3 linked regions of the Homo sapiens genome follow. The protein of the gene in region 3 interacts with the protein of the main gene of each other region in a pairwise test. Each region holds a gene or a part of one and is shown on either strand. Other genes may lie near its edges. The genes, in order: GABBR2, EGFL6 and SH3GL3.

Region 1 (3,657 bases), on a different chromosome or scaffold from region 3:
TTGTCCTTTCAGCTCATCACCCTGAGAACAAACCCAGATGCAGCAACGCAGAACAGGCGATTCCAGTTCACTCAGAATCAGAAGAAAGAAGATTCTAAAACGTCCACCTCGGTCACCAGTGTGAACCAAGCCAGCACATCCCGCCTGGAGGGCCTACAGTCAGAAAACCATCGCCTGCGAATGAAGATCACAGAGGTACCTCCCTCTGCATCTGGTAGCTGGGCCCTGTCTGCCACTGAAGCCCCTCTAACCCTGTGCGGGGACTCTCAGGCTCCTCTAGACCATCCCTGCAGCATGACCGTGCAGTCTCATCAGCTGCAGTTGCAGCTGCGAGAGCCAGGGGTGACATAAACCACACAGAGGCATTTGTCAGAATCCAACATGAGCTTATTGCCCACCTCACCCAGGCTCTTGGAGGCCAGCAACACCTGATTCAAGCCATCCCCAGACAGAAAGGAACTCAGGGAGATTTGTGAGCTTCTGGATTATCATAGCTTCCTACGTCAGTGTCTCTTTATCTGTGTCTCTCTCCCTCTCAGTTTTTCACTCTCCCAGCACAACCCAGCAACCACCACATCTATGTGATGTACAAGAGAAGAGAAAGTGAAAAGAAACTTTTCAAGAGAGAGTGCTGCAGCAGACCTCGCCTTTGTCCTGAGGGTTCTCAACTGGTTCTTGAATATTCCAGAGAGACCATAGCCAGATTGCCTTGTGCCCAAGCCAGGCTTGGCTTGTAGACCAGGGAAGGGAAAACAAATTACCTCCCCTCCTCTACCCCTCCCTTTGGGTTGGAGGTATGCCTGAACCCGTGCTCTGCAGGCTGTGTGTTGCTTTAATAGAGGAATTCTGATTAGGGAGGGGGACAGGAAAGGGACCAAGGAAAGTACATTGGTTACAATGCTGGCTAAACAAGGCCCCAAAATAAAGTGGCCCAGAGAAAATATGTTTATTTCCCTTTTACCTAATGGCCGTGAAAAGAGAGGGCCCGGTTGGGGCAGCTCTGCTCCCCAAGGTCATTGCTGGGCTTGGTTCCTGCCCTCTGGTTTTCCCCACTCTCCAGGGTGTTCTCTTCATTCATAGCGGGAGAGCTGGGTGGACAGCATGTCCTGTTCACAGTGTCAGGAGGGGAAGAGATAGAAAGTCCACATGAGGGATTGCCTTTTAAGCAGTAACACCAAAAATTGTGCATATTTTGGTTCTGCCCTAGTCACATCAACAAAAACTGACATGAGCACACCTAGTGAGAGGAGAGGCTGGGAAACGTCGTCTCTAGCTGGACAGCTGCAAGGAAGAAGTGAGACATAGGGTTGCCAGATTAGATATGGGATGCCCAGTTAAATTCAGACTTCAGATCAACAACCAATCATATTTTCAGTAAAAGTTTAGCCCAAGTAATACTTGAATATACTTATACTAAAAAAGAACCCATTATCTGAAACTCAAATTTGACTGGACATTCTGGATTTTTATTTGCTAGATCTGGCCGCCCTTTGGGGGGCTCACAGAATTCTGCCACAGAGAGCCACCATACAGTTGTCTGTGCACCTAAAGATGACTGCTTTAGGATGAGGTAACCCACCATCAGCTGCCAGAGCAAACTAAGAAGGGTTTCTGTCCCCCAAAGCCCATTACAGGCTCTGTTTCAATATCAGACCTCTCCTGATGAGTACGACCATGTCACTGCATTTCACTTCTACTTGCACACTTCAGCAATGAAGAGTTCAGTCACATTAGGAAACCCAGGCCACTATTTAAAACTCTTAAATGTTGTGTTATTTTTCCCGGAAATGAATCACAATCTGGCCTCCTGTTGTCCCCACCCTTTGATCCTACTCCTGCCATTTAAGTCACATAGAAAAGAGTATCTCTTTCCCTCCTCCTCCACATGAAAACGTGTTAAACAATTTCATGGCTGTGTTCCTGACATCAGAACAGCCTCTGATAGTTTATCAGGTCTCCTCCCTTATACTACAGCAGGATGCTGTTTGGAAAAATCCTCTAACCATGTTTTTCCTGTGCTCTTGCACCAACACAACAGTCAACGCAGAAGACTTCTGTGACCAAATGTGTGTGGGGTTTTCCCCACCAACGAGCAGCAGGCACCCGCTGGGTGCCTCCAGTTCAAATCCAATGCTACATATCTAGAGATAGCTTCAGATCCCACAGGTTGAGGGCTCAGTCCCCAAGGCTCCCCCTGACCCCCACCCTACCCTCAGATACCAGTCATAAGTCAGGCCTCTGGAACTTCTGACCAGCCAGCTTCAAGTTGGGACTCCCAGGATCCTGCTTTGGGTTGAATTAATTTGCTAGAGGGGCTCACGGAACCCAGGGAAACACATTTACCAGCTTATTACCAAGGACATGAATGAAGAGATGCACAGAGCGAGGACGGGTGAAGGGGTGTGGAGCTTCCCTGCCTCCCTGGGCCCCATGCTCCAGGAACCTTCACGTGTTCAGCTACCCAGAAGATCTTCATACCCTGTTCTTTTGAGTTTTTATGGAGGCTTCATTACACGAGGCATGACTGACAACTGTGTAGAAATGTGATTGGACAAAAATGCATGATCTAAACCCAGCAAGGCCTTTCTGCTCAGAATTTTCTTGGCCTCTCTGTAGCATTCCTTCCTCCAGGGTATGGGGCAAGACTTTCTCTCTGTGATAAAGGTCTTTTGACCTACATCAGATTACAGTCCTGCCTTGAGCAGGTGAGAAAGGACAGGAGAAGGTCAGAGAGAGTGATTCTGTTTCATGAGGCCCGCTCCTGAGGCCTAAAATGCCCCAACATTATAACAAAAGACTCTTACAAGAGATATAGCAGCCAGGAATCATGGATGAAAGCCATTCTATTATACAGATATGGTAATATCACAGATGTTCAACACCCATCCCGACTACCACCCCCAACAACTACCAACACTCATATTGCCCAGGCTTCTCTGGGGCTGAATTGCCCCCAGGACTTGCACCTGATTTTTGTATAACCTGGGAATGGGCCAGGTGCTGTGGCTCACACCTGTAATCCCAACGCTTTGGGAGGACAAAGTGGGAGGATCGCTCGAGCCCAGGAGTTCAAGACCGGCCTGGGCAACATAGAGAAGACTTGTCTCTAAAAATAAAAACGTGGGGATGACTGGGACCCATCCTGATTAACTCCTCTGAGTGAGACCCTGCAGGTCAGAGTCTCCATGATAGTGTGAGGCTCAGAGCTCGCGAGCCCTGCATGTCTGTCCTCCACTGTGGGTCCTATTAAGTATCAGTAATAGTAATTATAAGGCCAGGCACAGTAGTTCATGCCTGTAAACCCAGCACTTTGGGAGGCCAAAGTGGGAGGATTGCTTGAGCTCAGGAGTTCAAGACCAGCCTGAGGAACATAGAGAGACCCCATCTCTACCAAAAAAAAAAAAAATTAGCCAGACATGGTAGCATGCACGTGTAGTCCCAGCTACTCAGGAGGGTGAGACAGGAGGATTGCTTGAGCCTAGGAGATCAAGGTTGCAGTAAGCTATAATTGCACCACTGCACTCTAATCTGGGTGACAGAGTGAGACCCTGTAATAATAGTAATATTATTATAGTAGCAAGTTGCCCTTATTATGTTTCAGACACTGGGCTAAACTTTCCATGTATTATCTTGTTTGATCTGCACAACCTCCCCCTG
Region 2 (2,894 bases), on a different chromosome or scaffold from region 3:
GTGACTCACGCCTGTAATCCCAACACTTTGGGAGGCCGAGACAGGCAGATCACCTGAGGTTGGGAGTTCAAGACCAGCCTGACCAACATGGAGAAACCCCATCTCTACTAAAAATACAAAATTAGCCAGGTGTGCAAGCCTGTAATCCCAGCTACTCAGAAGGCCGAGTCAGGAGAATTGCTTTAACCCGGGAGGCGGAGGTTGCAGTGAGCCGAGATCGTGCCATTGCACTCAAGCCTGGGCAACAAGAGTGAAACTCTATCTCAAAAAAAACCCCGAAAAAACAAACAAATGAAAAGTTTGGTCAAGGTGGGAAGGAAAAAGGGTGAAAGCTAGAAAAAGGTACATTAAGTGGTGATAATAGGAAGAGCAATTAGTAGATCCATGTATTGGGATTCCATTTATACTTTGCTTGTGAAAGATGACTAATGCAAATTTAACATCTTTTCATTTACATGTCATAGTTTAATTAAAGCAGAACATCTTGTTTAAAATATGTCATGAGACATGACTATAAATAAAAGTATATGTTGGGTACCAGTTAATGAATTTCCTAACCACTCTTCCCCTCTGAGGTAAAAGCAGCCAGTGCTTGTTTAGGAATGACACATGCATTAATTTGAGTTTATTCTTATAGCAGTACATTTAAATCAATACAAATCCAATCCACGTATTTTCTTGTTGTGTTTGCAGCATGGTTTGGGGACTGTGGCACTGAGCCATGCTATATATGGATGATATCCCCTGCTGGAGAATTGAAACATGCCTCTGCACAGCATTCATAATCACTTTCATGTTGACTGAATTCATGTGATGGAGAATATTTTTAATATAACATGGTAGCTTGCAGGGAGGGTATACTAGCAAAACAGTGATTTTTTTTTTAAATGCACATTTCTGTAGACATGCCCCCAAAGAGCCTGGCCAGCAATCACACTGGAACACAGCAGTGCTTTCATAAGAGGCATTCTCAGACCCAGGCATCTGTTCCTTGAATTCTTCAGTTCTAGGGGAAATCTTGATGGGGGGATATTGAAGGGTAAGGAAGCTGACTAATCCAGTCTAAAGAATATATTCCAGTTTAGCAATGTCATATTGGCTGTGGACATTTGTAACATATGTGACTCTTGCTGCATAAACTTGGGCATACAATGTAAGTCACATTGCTTTCTCGAAATCAAACTATTTCTGAATCCAAAGCCCCATCCCATTAGGCTGGGGGGGAAATTTAATCTTGGCTATTTCCTCATTCAGGGTTGGGATAGGGGCCCCCTCCCTAGGGTAGCCTGTGCTTTTGAAAGGCTAAAAATGGTCCAGACATTAAGAAGGGGGCAACACATCTTTACTTCATCATGGGGGCCATGGATACCCATATCTTCTGCACCTACGTGGCCCTTGAAGTCACTCATCTCTTCAACTTCCATGCCAGGCCCAGACACAGAAACCTTTACTGGGGTTGGAATCTTGTTGCTGAGAATCTAGCCTCAATAGGAACATCAGGCAACCATTTTCTGCCCAGGGCTCTGCCAGGGAGATGCAGTGGTACAGCATCCTAGTCCTGGAGAATCTCATGGCTCCCCTCACCACTTCTCCTTTTAACCTTCTACCTTCAGCCACAGTCTCAGAAAGTTAAGCTTGTGGGTAACAAACGTCAGGAAAGGGACCATCTTCCAGAAAAGTCTGCTTTTGATTGTTATATCCCAAATCTCCTTGATAAAAAAGAACATTAAAATCCTGCCTAATTTTGGGGGGGATAGAGGAGGTAAAAATATAGTGAAAAACACAAAATTAGTATGTCAATTAATTATCCGGACATTTATTTCTAGTTATCCAGTGGTTATCAGTCAGGGGTCTTAGTGTTGGAAAAGCCACCATATGCCAAGATGTAGACATAGCCACCCTCATTATCCCACCCATTGCAGCTGCTGTGAGGGGTCTGCTGTTTGGCTCACCCCTACTTTTTAAAAAAAGTTCCTTTGGGTGCAAAAGGAACATCTTTCTGAAAGCAGTTCCCTCCTGAGACTAGAGGAAAAAGAAACTTCTATACCCAGTTGTGCTATCACTGGCTGCTTAGTAATAACTTGTTTCCAATAGTTCTCAAGAAAATGCACTCAGATTGAGAGCAAAAGAGAGCAGCCCAGGTACTGAGCAGTCATAGACCCTTGTCATCTCCATTTGTTCCCTGAGGTTTCTCTTCTTTGGAGAGCCAGAGAAAACTGGATATGGTGATGACAGCAAGCCTAAAGTTGCTTCATTTCTGAAGACTATTCTGTGATTCTTTATTAAGCAAAAAAGAGATGGTGCTGGGGATAGTGAATAATTGCATGATGGCATTGTTGTGAGCATGATTCTTAAAGGGTCTTTCTTTAAAATGCCAATTTATACAAGTTTGAATTTATATAAGTTTGAGCTTAAAAAGTTTAGAAATGACAAAAGGAAATTACTTTTTTGAAAATAAGAAAAGATTCATAATCATACTACAGTAACATGAGTGCTTTTATATTTCACATTTTACTTTGCACATGAATGTATATTTTTATTTATCTGTAACTGCAGTATGCGTAGGCTATTGTTGAATTTCATTTTGATAGGCTATATGTGCATGTTATTTTAAAGAATACCATGTTCCAAATGAAATATTCTTTTCCCTCTATGTTTGTTCCAGGGTAACTTTTGTCATCTTTGAATCAGGATCATTTTGTTGTCCTCTAAATCTGCTTATTTCGGATATTGAAGATTGTAGAAACCCTCTAGGCCTAGTCTGCTCTTTATGGGAGGCATGGGAGACATACTTCTCTTTAGAGTGAATGTTACTGGATAGGTGCTCCATAAATTGTAGCTATTATTATTTTCATAATTATTGAATTTAACAAATATTTCTAGTGTTTTATCTG
Region 3 (3,657 bases):
AGAACTAGAAAAGCAAGAGCAAACACATTCAAAAGCTAGCAGAAGGCAAGAAATAACTAAAATCAGAGCAGAACTGAAGGAAATAGAGACACAAAAAACCCTTCAAAAAATCAATGAATCCAGGAGCTGGTTTTTTGAAAGGATCAACAAAATTGATAGACCGCTAGCAAGACTAATAAAGAAAAAAAGAGAGAAGAATCAAATAGACACAATAAAAAATGATAAAGGGGATATCACCACCGATCCCACAGAAATACAAACTACCATCAGAGAATACTACAAACACCTCTACGCAAATAAATCAGAAAATCTAGAAGAAATGGATACATTCCTCGACACATACACTCTCCCAAGACTAAACCAGGAAGAAGTTGAATCTCTGAATAGACCAATAACAGGCTCTGAAATTGTGGCAATAATCAGTAGTTTACCAACCAAAAAGAGTCCAGGACCAGATGGATTCACAGCCGAATTCTACCAGAGGTACAAGGAGGAACTGGTACCATTCCTTCTGAAACTATTCCAATCAATAGAAAAAGAGGGAATCCTCCCTAACTCATTTTATGAGGCCAGCATCATTCTGATACCAAAGCCGGGCAGAGACACAACCAAAAAAGAGAATTTTAGACCAATATCCTTGATGAACATTGATGCAAAAATCCTCAATAAAATACTGGCAAACCGAATCCAGCAGCACATCAAAAAGCTTATCCACCATGATCAAGTGGGCTTCATCCCTGGGATGCAAGGCTGGTTCAATATACGCAAATCAATAAATGTAATCCAGCATATAAACAGAGCCAAAGACAAAAACCACATGATTATCTCAATAGATGCAGAAAAAGCCTTTGACAAAATTCAACAACCTTCATGCTAAAAACTCTCAATAAATTAGGTATTGATGGGACGTATTTCAAAATAATAAGAGCTATCTATGACAAACCCACAGCCAATATCATACTGAATGGGCAAAAACTGGAAGCATTCCCTTTGAAAACTGGCAAAAGACAGGGATGCCCTCTCTCACCGCTCCTATTCAACATAGTGTTGGAAGTTCTGGCCAGGGCAATCAGGCAGGAGAAGGAAATAAAGGGTATTCAATTAGGAAAAGAGGAAGTCAAATTGTCCCTGTTTGCAAACGACATGATTGTTTATCTAGAAAACCCCATCGTCTCAGCCCAAAATCTCCTTAAGCTGATAAGCAACTTCAGCAAAGTCTCAGGATACAAAATCAATGTACAAAAATCACAAGCATTCTTATACACCAACAACAGACAAACAGAGAGCCAAATCATGAGTGAACTCCCATTCACAATTGCTTCAAAGAGAATAAAATACCTAGGAATCCAACTTACAAGGGATGTGAAGGACCTCTTCAAGGAGAACTACAAACCACTGCTCAAGGAAATAAAAGAGGACACAAACAAATGGAAGAACATTCCATGCTCATGGGTAGCAAGAATCAATATCGTGAAAATGGCCATACTGCCCAAGGTAATTTACAGATTCAATGCCATCCCCATCAAGCTACCAATGACTTTCTTCACAGAATTGGAAAAAACTACTTTAAAGTTCATATGGAACCAAAAAAGAGCCCGCATCGCCAAGTCAATCCTAAGCCAAAAGAACAAAGCTGGAGGCATCACACTACCTGACTTCAAACTATACTACAAGGCTACAGTAACCAAAACAGCATGGTACTGGTACCAAAACAGAGATATAGATCAATGGAACAGAACAGAGCCCTCAGAAATAATGCCGCATATCTACAACTATCTGATCTTTGACAAACCTGAGAAAAACAAGCAATGGGGAAAGGATTCCCTATTTAATAAATGGTGCTGGGAAAACTGGCTAGCCATATGTAGAAAGCTGAAACTGGATCCCTTCCTTACACCTTATACAAAAATCAATTCAAGATGGATTAAAGATTTAAACGTTAGACCTAAAACCATAAAAACCCTAGAAGAAAATCTAGGCATTACCATTCAGGACATAGGCGTGGGCAAGGACTTCATGTCCAAAACACCAAAAGCAATGGCAACAAAAGCCAAAATTGACAAATGGGATCTAATTAAACTCAAGAGCTTCTGCACAGCAAAAGAAACTACCATCAGAGTGAACAGGCAACCTACAACATGGGAGAAAATTTTCGCAACCTACTCATCTGACAAAGGGCTAATATCCAGAATCTACAATGAACTCAAACAAATTTACAAGAAAAAAACAAAGAACCCCATCAAAAAGTGGGCGAAGGACATGAACAGACACTTCTCAAAAGAAGACATTTATGCAGCCAAAAAACACATGAAGAAATGCTCACCATCACTGGCCATCAGAGAAATGCAAATCAAAACCACTATGAGATATCATCTCACACCAGTTAGAATGGCAATCATTAAAAAGTCAGGAAACAACAGGTGCTGGAGAGGATGTGGAGAAATAGGAACACTTTTACACTGTTGGTGGGACTGTAAACTAGTTCAACCATTGTGGAAGTCAGTGTGGCGATTCCTCAGGGATCTAGAACTAGAAATACCATTTGACCCAGCCATCCCATTACTGGGTATATACCCAAAGGACTATAAATCATGCTGCTATAAAGACACATGCACACGTATGTTTATTGCGGCACTATTCACAATAGCAAAGACTTGGAACCAACCCAAATGTCCAACAATGATAGACTGGATTAAGAAAATGTGGCACATATACACCATGGAATACTATGCAGCCATAAAAAATGATGAGTTCATGTCCTTTGTAGGGACATGGATGAAATTGGAAATCATCATTCTCAGTAAACTATCGCAAGAACAAAAAACCAAACACCGCATATTCTCACTCATAGGTGGGAATTGAACAATGAGATCACATGGACACAGGAAGGGGAATAACACACTCTGGAGACTGTGGTGGGGTCGGGGGAGGGGGGAGGGATAGCATTGGGAGATATACCTAATGCTAGATGACACTTTAGTGGGTGCAGCGCACCAGCATGGCACATGTATACATATGTAACTAACCTGCACAATGTGCACATGTACCCTAAAACTTAGAGTATAATAGAAAAAAAAAAATTAAAAAAAAAAAAGAAAATCTATAACCTTAAAAAAAAAAAAAAAGAAAAATATCCCATTTTAATAAAGGATAATGCATATTAGAAAAAAAAAAAAAAAGAAAAATTTGGGTTCTAGTCTCAAACGCTGAAACTTAGAATTAATTAAATTTTTTTGTTAACTTATATTCTTCTCATTTTAGCATATTTCTTCCTCTTTCCTGTTGGTCTCCATGTGCTGCCAAAATGATGCATAATCCCCAGGGTTTACGAGTCTTCATTCTCTGTAAAGTAGGGGTTTTTTCCCAGAGATAGGGAAGGTATCAGGAAAAAAGGAACAGTTAACCGGGTTATAGCTAATTTTACCTCGCTTATCTTTCAGAAAACTATCTCAGTTTGCCATGGTCCTGGATCCCTTCTCTGTAAAAGGTCCACTTTATCATCTTTGTCTTACTCTGAAATGCTTAACTTACTTAAGAATTTCAGCACTGAGATGTATACATACACACACACCCAGAGACACAGAGACATATTCGTATCACTTTATTGAGATATATTTCACATACCATACAATTCTCTTAAAGTGTACAATTCAGTGG

What was found.
Region 1: the proteins of SH3GL3 (region 3) and GABBR2 interact in a two-hybrid assay, tested with the Homo sapiens proteins (one large-scale study listed by BioGRID and IntAct).
Region 2: the proteins of SH3GL3 (region 3) and EGFL6 interact in a two-hybrid assay, tested with the Homo sapiens proteins (one large-scale study listed by BioGRID and IntAct).

Annotation. Positions count from the first base shown.
Region 1 is NC_000009.12:98,299,779-98,303,435, reverse strand, and holds part of GABBR2 (gamma-aminobutyric acid type B receptor subunit 2 precursor), read left to right. Parts: intron 1-12; coding exon 13-195; intron 196-3,657. UniProt on the Homo sapiens protein: Component of a heterodimeric G-protein coupled receptor for GABA, formed by GABBR1 and GABBR2. Within the heterodimeric GABA receptor, only GABBR1 seems to bind agonists, while GABBR2 mediates coupling to G proteins.
Region 2 is NC_000023.11:13,628,543-13,631,436, forward strand, and holds part of EGFL6 (epidermal growth factor-like protein 6 isoform 1 precursor), read left to right. Parts: intron 1-2,894.
Region 3 is NC_000015.10:83,450,228-83,453,884, reverse strand, and holds part of SH3GL3 (endophilin-A3), read right to left. Parts: intron 1-3,657. UniProt on the Homo sapiens protein: Implicated in endocytosis. May recruit other proteins to membranes with high curvature.